Homo sapiens: one gene and its partners. The protein of the gene in region 1 interacts with the protein of each later gene in a pairwise test. Each region holds a gene or a part of one and is shown on either strand. Other genes may lie near its edges.

Evidence for each region.
Region 2: the proteins of ELK3 (region 1) and SP4 interact in binary tests that used the Homo sapiens proteins (3 or more experiments, as listed by UniProt).
Region 3: the proteins of ELK3 (region 1) and BPIFA1 interact in binary tests that used the Homo sapiens proteins (3 or more experiments, as listed by UniProt).

What each region holds. Positions count from the first base shown.
Region 1 is NC_000012.12:96,267,300-96,270,406, reverse strand, and holds the end of ELK3 (ETS domain-containing protein Elk-3), read right to left. Parts: 3' UTR 583-3,107; downstream 1-582. UniProt on the Homo sapiens protein: May be a negative regulator of transcription, but can activate transcription when coexpressed with Ras, Src or Mos. Forms a ternary complex with the serum response factor and the ETS and SRF motifs of the Fos serum response element.
Region 2 is NC_000007.14:21,508,022-21,511,778, forward strand, and holds part of SP4 (transcription factor Sp4), read left to right. Parts: intron 1-3,000; coding exon 3,001-3,248; 3' UTR 3,249-3,757. UniProt on the Homo sapiens protein: Binds to GT and GC boxes promoters elements. Probable transcriptional activator.
Region 3 is NC_000020.11:33,238,979-33,242,735, forward strand, and holds part of BPIFA1 (BPI fold-containing family A member 1 precursor), read left to right. Parts: intron 1-824; coding exon 825-932; intron 933-1,254; coding exon 1,255-1,407; intron 1,408-2,406; coding exon 2,407-2,491; intron 2,492-3,077; coding exon 3,078-3,141; intron 3,142-3,508; coding exon 3,509-3,549; 3' UTR 3,550-3,583; exon of another isoform or gene 3,584-3,691; intron 3,692-3,757.

The DNA of each region.
Region 1 (3,107 bases):
ACCTGTGTTACACTATATGTAGCTGTGAGTTATCTGTGGCCTTTTGGCACGCTAGTGATACTGAATGTGTTGTTTAGGGACTGCATTAATCTGCTTTCTCCCTGCATCCCCTCCCCTCCCCTCACACCAGTCTCCCTATATCAAACCCTGAGTGGAGACTGCTTTGAATCACCCATGAAAACCAGAGCCAGGTCAGCCTGGTATTGAGACCAAGAGAAATAATAACCTTTATCACCAAGCCTAGCAGTTCACATTCCCCTGAATCAACAAAATGGCTAAAAGAATAAATGGTAGATTTGATTTTCCCCTACCTTCTCACTTCCTCCTCCTCCTCAATACAGAGCAGTTGATAGAACTTAAATAAGATCAGGGGTCTGCTTTTCAATCCATTCCATTCTCCCACAAGTCAGCCTCAATAATTACATTTATTTCTTAAAATATGTGTATGTAAAGCACTTTTTTTTTGGATGTGCTGTCTTTAAGGGTAGGTGACAAGACTCATTTTCCAACTTGTATCCATATGGAAAAGTGGTTTGGGTCACCCCAAGCAAATGGAAGTAAGCCAATCCAGTTACCTCTAAACACCTTTTATCACAAAGTTTTTATTGAACAAAAATAATATGACAGTAAAAATGATACATAAAGTGAAGATTTGCAGTCATAGAAAAGATGTGTACAAAGAGACCAACATTCAGGTTATATAGTTCTATAAAACTTTTCCCATAGCAGTTTAACACTGATTAAGCAGACATAAAAGGGAAAAGAAAGTCATTAATGTTCTTTGAAACCTATTTTCTGAGTAAAATACCTCTGCTAACACACACATGCACACACACACAGAATGAGGCAGAGCTATATGAGTGAGTTATTCTTCAGTTCCTCCAGTTCTCTGTTTGTGTTACAGGAGTATTTTCATCCATCAAAAAATTGTAGTATTTTTGCATTTCTAATAAATGGATCTAGAGCATACATTAATCCCAGTTTCCAAAGGAAAAGAAAGAATCAGATCTATAGTCATTTAAATATTTCCAATCAGCATTTACGTAAACAAGTATACTAAAAATAGTAGTTTTGGTTGAGATTTTTGCACATTAACTTCCTTTAGTTTGTAAGAATCATGCATTTTGGATGTGTTCTCTTATCTGACAACACAGTTTTAAATGCTGTCTTTATCTGTTTTGTTTGTTTTACTAATAACACGTAGTTTTGAACCAGTAATTACTTAACAGCTAGGCATGGGGGAGACAGAATTGGACTGAGCACCAATCATTGTTCTACCTTCAGTGAGCTGTGCAGCCATAGGCAACTCCCAGCTTCTGCTGTGCACCTGTCTTGAGCTGGAAACAGGTGGCGGGAAGCATTCTCAAAGGCCCCTTCTAGCACTAACTTTGTATGTTCAGTAAATATCAGTTCCCTGGACCAGCTCCTTTTATTCTGGTACAGAATTATTCTTAGCCTATGGGGTGGGGGTGGGGGGACAGTAGTGTCTATTATTTGTGAATTTTGGAACCAGTGTCATTACTTTACAGTCAAGGAGGCATGTTAGAGTGTTTGGATTTTTATCCCTTGATAAGGGCCCACATCCCCACATACAGAGATGCTCAATTCCAATTGAAAAACCTCAGAATTTCTAAGTGTCAAAGCAATAGTCTAGATTTTTTTCTGAAAATTCAAGAAATGTGTTTTCTCAAATCTCTTTTTTTATCCTTTCTCATAATCCTGCCACTTAATGCCCAGTTTGGATCAGTTATTTAGTCACATTTCAAGTTAGTTTTTATCATCACTTATAGTTAAGGATTGTAATTAATCTTGAATTTAAAGCTTGGTGCTTTTCAGTTTTCTTGTATTAGAACTTTCCTTCTTCATGTACAGGTGTGGTACCTTTGGACTGGTGCCTGCTGATTTTCTGATGGAACAGAAAATATGTCTGTATTATCACTGCTCCAAATTACATTACACAACAGAATTTACTGGAGTGTTCCAAGTTATCATCAGTTCAGTTCCACGATGATGAGGTTCCTGTAGAATTTTTCATCTGTCAGATTTCCTTCATTCTCCCCTAACTTTAGTAATACATAAAGCAGTGTATCCTCTCTCAGTTTCCACAAGCAAGGCCTTTAGTACCTCCACTCTCTATTTGTATTACAGCAAGTTTTTGATCCATCAAAAATTGTGAACACCTACCTATACTGATGAAGATACCTAGTGTTAAAAATGGTTTCTTTGTTGTTTGGGTTCATCACCACTCTGTGAGCTTCTTCTAAAGCATTAGATTTTTTAAATGTTAATTATAGTTCCAGGGGAACCCCAACTTACTTATACTGACACAGTAAATATATCAGATGGTCGGGATTCCCTATGGAAAACTGAGAAAACCAGGGCTAATTTTTTGAAATAAGAATATGCTAACCTAGGAGATATTCTTGGGCCTGGAATAGCATGAACTTGATGTAGCTTTTCCATCTCAGATTTTTGTCTGGGAGGCATCTAAAAGATAAGATACTGTAAACAGCTAAGGAGGCTAGCCTTTCAAGGTCCATTCTTTTGAAAATGTACTTTAGAACATTTTCTTTTATCAATGTTTATTGTCTAAATATGGCTTAGTTTATTATAAAAACATTACTTGGACATTTACTGAATTTCAGTTCAAAAGAGGTTCTAAGGCAATTCTTATACAATTGAAAGTAAAACAAAACGTGATATATGCTTTCATATTGCCCACTGGTGAAAAATAATGAAATTCTACTAGAGAGCTGTTTGATACTAATTTTCATCTTTCAAACATTTCCTCTTAATACTAAAAAATATATAAATCATTCATTTACATTAAATGCGAAGGAAGGCACAACTGGTTATAGTCTATATAAGCACACAGTTTAGCATACTCAGAACTAAAGAGAAAAAAGCTTCACATCCTTATTAGTTATACTGAAAACCATTAAGAAAAGTTCTTCACTGTCAACAGTGTTCAACACTTAAGAGCTAAAAGGATATAAAAACAAAAACATTAAAATTCACTTAATGCCAAACAGATTTTCATATATACTTGAATATATCAAAAACAGTTTTTAAAATGCTAACATAAATCTAGACTATCCATGTTATGA
Region 2 (3,757 bases), on another chromosome or scaffold:
TGCACGAGGTTGCCTGGTTGCTGCAGTGCCTGCTTTTCTCCCTGTGTCGCCTCTGCTGCCTCCTGAATAACAGTCTCAGGTTTGTCTGTGGCTTCTGTGGGGAGCCAGGATGCCCGGACAGAGTGGGCCACCCAAATCGGGTGGGACACCTCTGCCCTCTCGGCTGGAGTCCCACTCCATGCAGGCACAGAGATCCCAGACAGGCCCCCAGGTTTGTGAGAAACACAGATTCACCTGTCCAAACCCAAAGAATGGACTTGGAGACACAAACAATGGAAGCGAGACTTTTAATGGTGGTCTTGCAAGATGGAGTGTCTGGTAGGCAGGCACACCCGGGGCAGTTACAGCAGGTAATTTATTTCCTAGCATCCAAATCTCACTGCAACCTCCACCCCGCCTGGTTCAAGCGATTCTCCTGCCTCAGCCTCCCAAGTAGCTGGGATTACAGGCGTGCATCACCACGCCCAGCTACTTTTTTTGTATTTTTAGTAGAGACAGGGTTTCACCATGTTGGCCAGGCTGGTCTCAAACTCCTGACCTCAGGGTCCACCCACCTCAGCCTCCTAAAGTGCTGGGATTACAGGTGTGAGCCACCGCGCCCAGCCTAAATACAGTTTGTTTGTTTTTTTAAGTAGGCCACTGCCTCCACCTTTGTACAGAGAAATCCCAGGTTCCTCCTGTCAGAACCTAGCTAGACCCTGGAATAAGATACCAAGACCAGGCTTGCCAACTGTGGCTTGGCATAGAGTTTGTGTTTGACCTGGGGTCAGGGCCTTGTCTACACACTTTTTTTTTTTTTTTTTTTTTTTGAGACAAGGCCGTGCTCTGTCATCCAGGCTAGAGTGCAGTGGCTCACTGTAGCCTCAACATTTGCATTACATGTTGATTTATATAATTAATGGATGGTGTTGCTTATTATCGATTGATTGTGAATCTGGCCACGACAAATTTATTCTAATTGTTTATTTTCTCAGATTATTTATGTAAATAGTAATAACTGTAAATAATAATCTATTTCAATTTTTTTCTTCCAGTGATTGTACCTCAGTTCATTTTACTGTCTTATATGTTGGCTTCGTCAGAATGTTTCATATTATGTTGAAAATAGTAATGATATATATAATAGCATTCTTATCTTGTTCCTGATGTATAAAGTAATAGTTCAGAAGTTTCTCCATTAATTATATGTAGGGGTATAGCAGGTAAAAGAAATAAATTTTTATTCCTGGTTTGCCAAGAGCTCTTATCAAAATGTGTTAAATTTTATCACACTGTTTTTATGCTTCTGTTGACCTTTTTTTTCTCTCCTTTAACTTTATGGAATCTTAAGTCATACAAAGTATTTTATTTTTGTGTAGTCAGATTTGTCTATTCTCTCTTTTATAGTTTCTAAATAACCTGTTGTACTTTTTAAAGTACCTTCAAACTCTAGGTTATAGAAATATTTTCCTTTTTTTTTAATACTTGGTTTTAAATCTTTGTAGCATGTATCTTGGTGTGTGGTATGACATGGAGGTGCATCTTCTTTGTGTTACTTCAGATGGATGTTTAATACAATATTGTATTGAGTGCAGTGCTCCTGTAAGTTTTAATATTTGTTTGTAACAATAATAAGGAAGACTAATGGTTTTTTCAAAGTTTACTCAAAAGTAAAAGCACACACGTAAAGAAAAAGAGAATGTAAAGAAAAAGAGAGAATATCTGACGTGGACCAACTTGAGCCTATAGATTTTTTTTATTGGTAAGTCAAAAGCAGGGCCAAGAAAAGAAATTATCCAAATTGAATTTTCTCATTATATTAGTCTGTTTTCATGCTGCTGATAAAGACATACCTAGACTGGGCAATTTACAAAAGAAAGAGGTTTAATTGGACTTACAGTTCCACATGGCTGGGGAGGCCTCACAATCATGGTGGAGGGCAAAGAGGAGCAAATCACATCTCGTGTGGATGGTGGCAGGCAAAGAGAGAATAAGGAAGACACAAAAGCAGAAATCCCTGATAAAACTATCGTATCTTGTGAGGCTTATTCTCAAGAACAGTATGGGGAACCCACCCCCATTATTCAGTTATCTCCCACTGGGTCCCTCCCACAACATGTGGGAATTATGGGAGCACAATTCAAGATGAGATTTGGATGAGGACACAGAGCCAAACCCTATCACTTATTACCCAAGTTTTATCAGACTGGGAAAACAACATTTCAGTCCCTTAAGTAACAATTTTAGAGGGAAGATCTACGGCTAACAGTTATTCATTGTGCACATCAGGATAAACCAGTTAACCAAATTTTGATATGCCTCATTTATTATACACAAAAACAAAAAGGCCTTTTTGTTTTTAGTTAACATTAAACTAGCTTTTATTCCAAAACAAAGAAGTCGGTCCAGTAAAACTATCTTATATTTTGAAGAAAACATATTTAAGAATTGCTTTGGACAACAGAAACTGTTATCTTATGAAACCTAAAAACTTTATTAAATTCTGAATGTAGCATGTGCCTGCCTCCCATTTTTGCCTTGTAAAGAACTCAGTATGCTATTAAATTATTAACTTAGTTTATTTGAAATAGTTCCAAGATATTTCATGCCTCCAAGATTAAAACTAAAACCCAGGTTAGCAGTTTTGAAGAAGAGTGGACATGAGCCTTGAACATTATATATATTTGTTACATCTGATAGAGATATTTTAAATTGTCTGCTAAAAACCCTCTTGCTTTGTAGATGGGAAAACTGAGAGTTCCAGTGGCTATTTACTTGCTCCAGCTTTTATTTCCAGTTCATAGCAGAAGCAGGACTTAAACTTCAGGTCTTTTCGTCTCAATCACATGGTCTTTCTCTTTGCATTGTGTATTTGATAACGTTTTTAAATAAAACAAAGCATTTTGCAACTAGTGAAACTGTACAAAAAGTCATATAATGTGACCAGAAGGGAGATTATTAAAAATTATAATTTCACTTAAGCAAAATGTGTATAACGCCATTTACTGTTTTTCTATGTAGGTGAAAAGAGATTTGAATGCCCGGAATGTTCTAAAAGGTTTATGCGGAGTGATCATCTCTCCAAACATGTCAAAACGCACCAGAATAAAAAAGGTGGTGGGACAGCTCTTGCCATTGTTACCTCGGGAGAACTGGACTCATCTGTTACAGAGGTGCTTGGCTCCCCAAGAATTGTCACAGTTGCAGCCATTTCTCAAGATTCGAATCCAGCAACTCCCAATGTTTCAACCAACATGGAAGAATTCTGAAAAGTTATTTATAACAGAGACCTCTAGTGCTGCACTTGTTTACACACCTTTGAAAATCTGGAAATGGGCTGGTCAAGTGGATTACAGAGTAGGAAATTATGTTTTCATTCTTGGCTTCTTTAAGTATTCCAGGGTTTGGGGTCAACACGTGAAGTGTTGAATTTTAAAAAATACAAAAAGCAGACTGATGTACTGGAAACAGAAAAGTATTTCCTCCATACTATAAGTTGTAGTTGTTTGGAAATATATCACATAACCTTTATACAGAATCTTCCCATCTCTTAATATCATGTGTTAACATGTTTAAAAAGACCTTAGTAGTTTGCAGGCTGGACCTTAATTGGACTTATTTTCTTTGAAAGTACTTTGTTATAAATTCAGTCAGTAATAATTTACGTGTATTCTTTTTCTCTATAGCACAGAAAACAGATAGTTAACTGATGATAGGGATAATACTGTATTTCCTTAGCTTGATTTTTGGAAAATCAACCGAAAATAGTTTGGCCGTC
Region 3 (3,757 bases), on another chromosome or scaffold:
GTGCTTGGTTTCTCCATCTGTAAAATATAGATTATAGAACCCACAGAGAAAGTGTATTGTGAGGACTGGAAAAGGTGTAAATCACCTGGCGCAGTGGCTGGCTCAGTGAATGGCCTCACCCATCAAATGGCCTCCCTGCTTGATGGGTGCGGTCACAGGCCTGGCTTCTCCTGGAGACAACAGGGTGTGATGATGGATGGATGGTTGGAAAGATAGGACAATGGGAGAATGGCTTCCTTCCACCCTTTCTGCACTCTCCCTGACTTCCTGCTCCTCAATTCCCATGATAAACATTGGTGATTGGCCACCTGACAGGGTGAGTGATTCTTACCCATAAATGTTTGTGCAGATTTACTTCCAGTTGCACCTGCATCATCCATTCATCCACTGACCAATCCATCATCCAGTTATCCATCCTTCTACCTAATCACTTACTCTTCCATCCATGTACCCACATATCCACTACCCACCTTCCCATCAATCCAGTCAACTAATATGAAGTAGCCACTTTCTTTGTAAGGCTCTTAGCTGGCATACAGGATGCAGATATAATCCAGACACAGTTGTTGTCCTGAATACCTCATAGACTGGAGATAAGGAAAGGGCCCTGTGTGTGTGTCAGATCTGTTCCAGGGCAGAGGCTGGAAAAGACCTAGTGTGTGACTCAGAACCCACGTGGCTTAGGCTGCAAGACTCCCCTCCCATCTCCCTATCCTGGGTGGGAAGCTCTACCTCTGGGATGGGTACTGTTAGGTTAAAGATGGTTTCTGGGTTTGGAGCTAGAGGAGCTAATGTTTCCCCCTCCAATATTACTCCCTGGACAGCATAAAGGTCACTGACCCCCAGCTGCTGGAACTTGGCCTTGTGCAGAGCCCTGATGGCCACCGTCTCTATGTCACCATCCCTCTCGGCATAAAGCTCCAAGTGAATACGTGAGTGGGTCCCAAGAGGGGGTGAGAGGATGGCTCACCGAGGGAGACCCTGGTGACCATGGTTAACCATAACGGGGGTATTGGAGTCTAACAGACCTGAGCCTCCAACTTCAGCTCATTTGCTGCTATGCTAAGTGGCCTTGGGTCACTTGGGAAACTCACTTGACCTCTTAAGTCTTTGTTTCTCCTGCTAGAAAATGAGATAAGTACAACTGTGGGCAAGATGGAGTGAGGTGAGGCTAGCATTCTTGGCAAGGAGAAAATAACCCTCTTCCTTGGAATGTGGTGGAGCTAGATACCAGTGGGGCTGTCTCCTTTGCAGGCCCCTGGTCGGTGCAAGTCTGTTGAGGCTGGCTGTGAAGCTGGACATCACTGCAGAAATCTTAGCTGTGAGAGATAAGCAGGAGAGGATCCACCTGGTCCTTGGTGACTGCACCCATTCCCCTGGAAGCCTGCAAATTTCTCTGCTTGATGGGTGAGGCCAGAGGAGCAGCTTATCCTGCCCAGAGATGACAGGGTGTGATGCCGGATGGATGATTGGAAAGCTGAGACAATGAGAGAATAGATGAGTGAGAGGCTGAAAGGGTGGGAAAATGGATGGGAAGGAGGGAGCGTGGAAAGATGGATGGATGGATGGATGGATGGATGGATGGATGGATGGATGGATGGACAGATGGTTAGATGGTTGGGTTGATGGAGAGAAGGATGAATAGATAGATGGATGGATAGATAGATGATAGATAGATAGATAGATAGATAGATAGATAGATAGATAGATAAAGTAGTACTTATTCCTTCTTAGACCAAGCTAACCAATTTTATGCTGGATCTAGCAACAAGAAATTGGAGTTTAAGCCCTGCATATTACAGGGGAATGGGGATAGAGGGCTTCCTGTGTGAACCTGGGTAGTGCTTCTCCAATTTAGTTCTAAGCTTACTTATCTGCAATATGGAACTGCACTGGAGTTATTGATAGAACCTACCAAGATAACAGGTGTGAAAGTGCTTTGTCCCAGTAAGGGGTAAAATAGACGTGGATCCTAACTAGGTTATTTATTTCAGTTACCTGTCACATGGGGAGACTGTGTCAAACCTATTACGCAAAAGTTGCCCACGTGGTTAACTTTTAATGAACACATACATTGGGCTTCACATGTGTCATCTCATTGGATCATAATGACAACTACATACTAAGTAGTATCCATTCATTTATGGACTCTGCAAAGCCTTATTGGCACCTGCTTTTTCTGAGAACCATGTGTTTATCCTACACATACCTGTGTGTTCACTGCTGTACACAAATGTAACTCCCTTTACATAAGACCCTTGCTGTTGGCCTGCACGTGGGTGTAGATAGACAAGGCTCGGCTTTAGTGACTGAGTGTTGAGACTGTGGGGTTCACAGTGGCCCCCTCTGGAGACTTCTCCACACCATCTCCAGGTCCCTGCATCACCCATGACTTTTCTCTTTCAGACTTGGCCCCCTCCCCATTCAAGGTCTTCTGGACAGCCTCACAGGGATCTTGAATAAAGTCCTGCCTGAGTTGGTTCAGGGCAACGTAAGTAGGCAAGGTGGGGATCCCCTGATCCTCAGGTTTTAGAGCTTCTTGCACTAAAACAAAGCCCTGAGCTAAGTGGGTCCGAGTCCCTCAATTTGATAAGTAACTTCCATTCATCAATCTATTTGTCCATTGATCCATCTGTCCATGTTTCTTCTTTACATCTTTCCAAATGCATTGATGAGTCTCTGCTCTAGGCCAGGCCCTGCTTGTCCACACTGAAGCTGAAATGGATTGGCCCCTGTTCTGAGAAATTGGAGAAGTTCCCTGTCCAGCCTTCTATGGCCACAGACAGTCTTTCAACCTATGCTTGGGTGTCTCCTATAACCAGGGCACTCCACTCCACTTAGAATCAGATGTGATGTCACAGGGTGAACACTGGGCTTGTTGTGTGATTTGGGGCCCTTCACAACATCCCTCATGCCTCCAGTTTCTCCTCAGGCATGTGTGACCATTGATCTGTGGGATTGCTTAGAATCACTTTCACACAGAAAAATGACAGGAAATTTCCCCAGAGAACCCCCACTAGGGATTCTGCTGCTCCAGGGTGCCACTCTGCCTAACTCTCCTCTCTGCCCCTGGCCAGGTGTGCCCTCTGGTCAATGAGGTTCTCAGAGGCTTGGACATCACCCTGGTGCATGACATTGTTAGTAAGTACCTGCTTTCAAGCCCTCTGTCCCTCTCTGCAGGAGCAGCAACTTCCCCCAAGGAGTTTTTTCCCTGCACACCCTAGGATACTAGGTCCCTCTGGCCTCAACTCTCTCTATTTTGGGCTTCATTTTCCCCCGAATAATCCAGATAATTTTGAGATAGACACCGTGTCTCCTGCCTCAGCCCTGACACTGAGGACAGCTGGGCTGGTTGGTAGAAGGAGGCCTGGCTTCCTCCAAGCATGCTGAACACAGTCGGATCTCCAGAGGCCTCCATTCCCTGGCCCCCCACCTTGAGGAATATGGACTCCTTCACGTTGAGATCATAACTGTCGTCTGTTTTTTTATTGCTTGTTTGTTTGTTTAGACATGCTGATCCACGGACTACAGTTTGTCATCAAGGTCTAAGCCTTCCAGGAAGGGGCTGGCCTCTGCTGAGCTGGTAAGTGCCCTTCCCCACACCCCAGGGTTTTGGGGGCTGGCTGTTCTTCTCCTGGTAGAAGGCAGACGGGAGCTTGGGACAATGACATCCAAAGAAAGAGACAAACATCTACAGAGGTACACACAGGGATGCACAGAGAAATCCACAGAAAAGCTGACAGAGGTGGAAGGATGC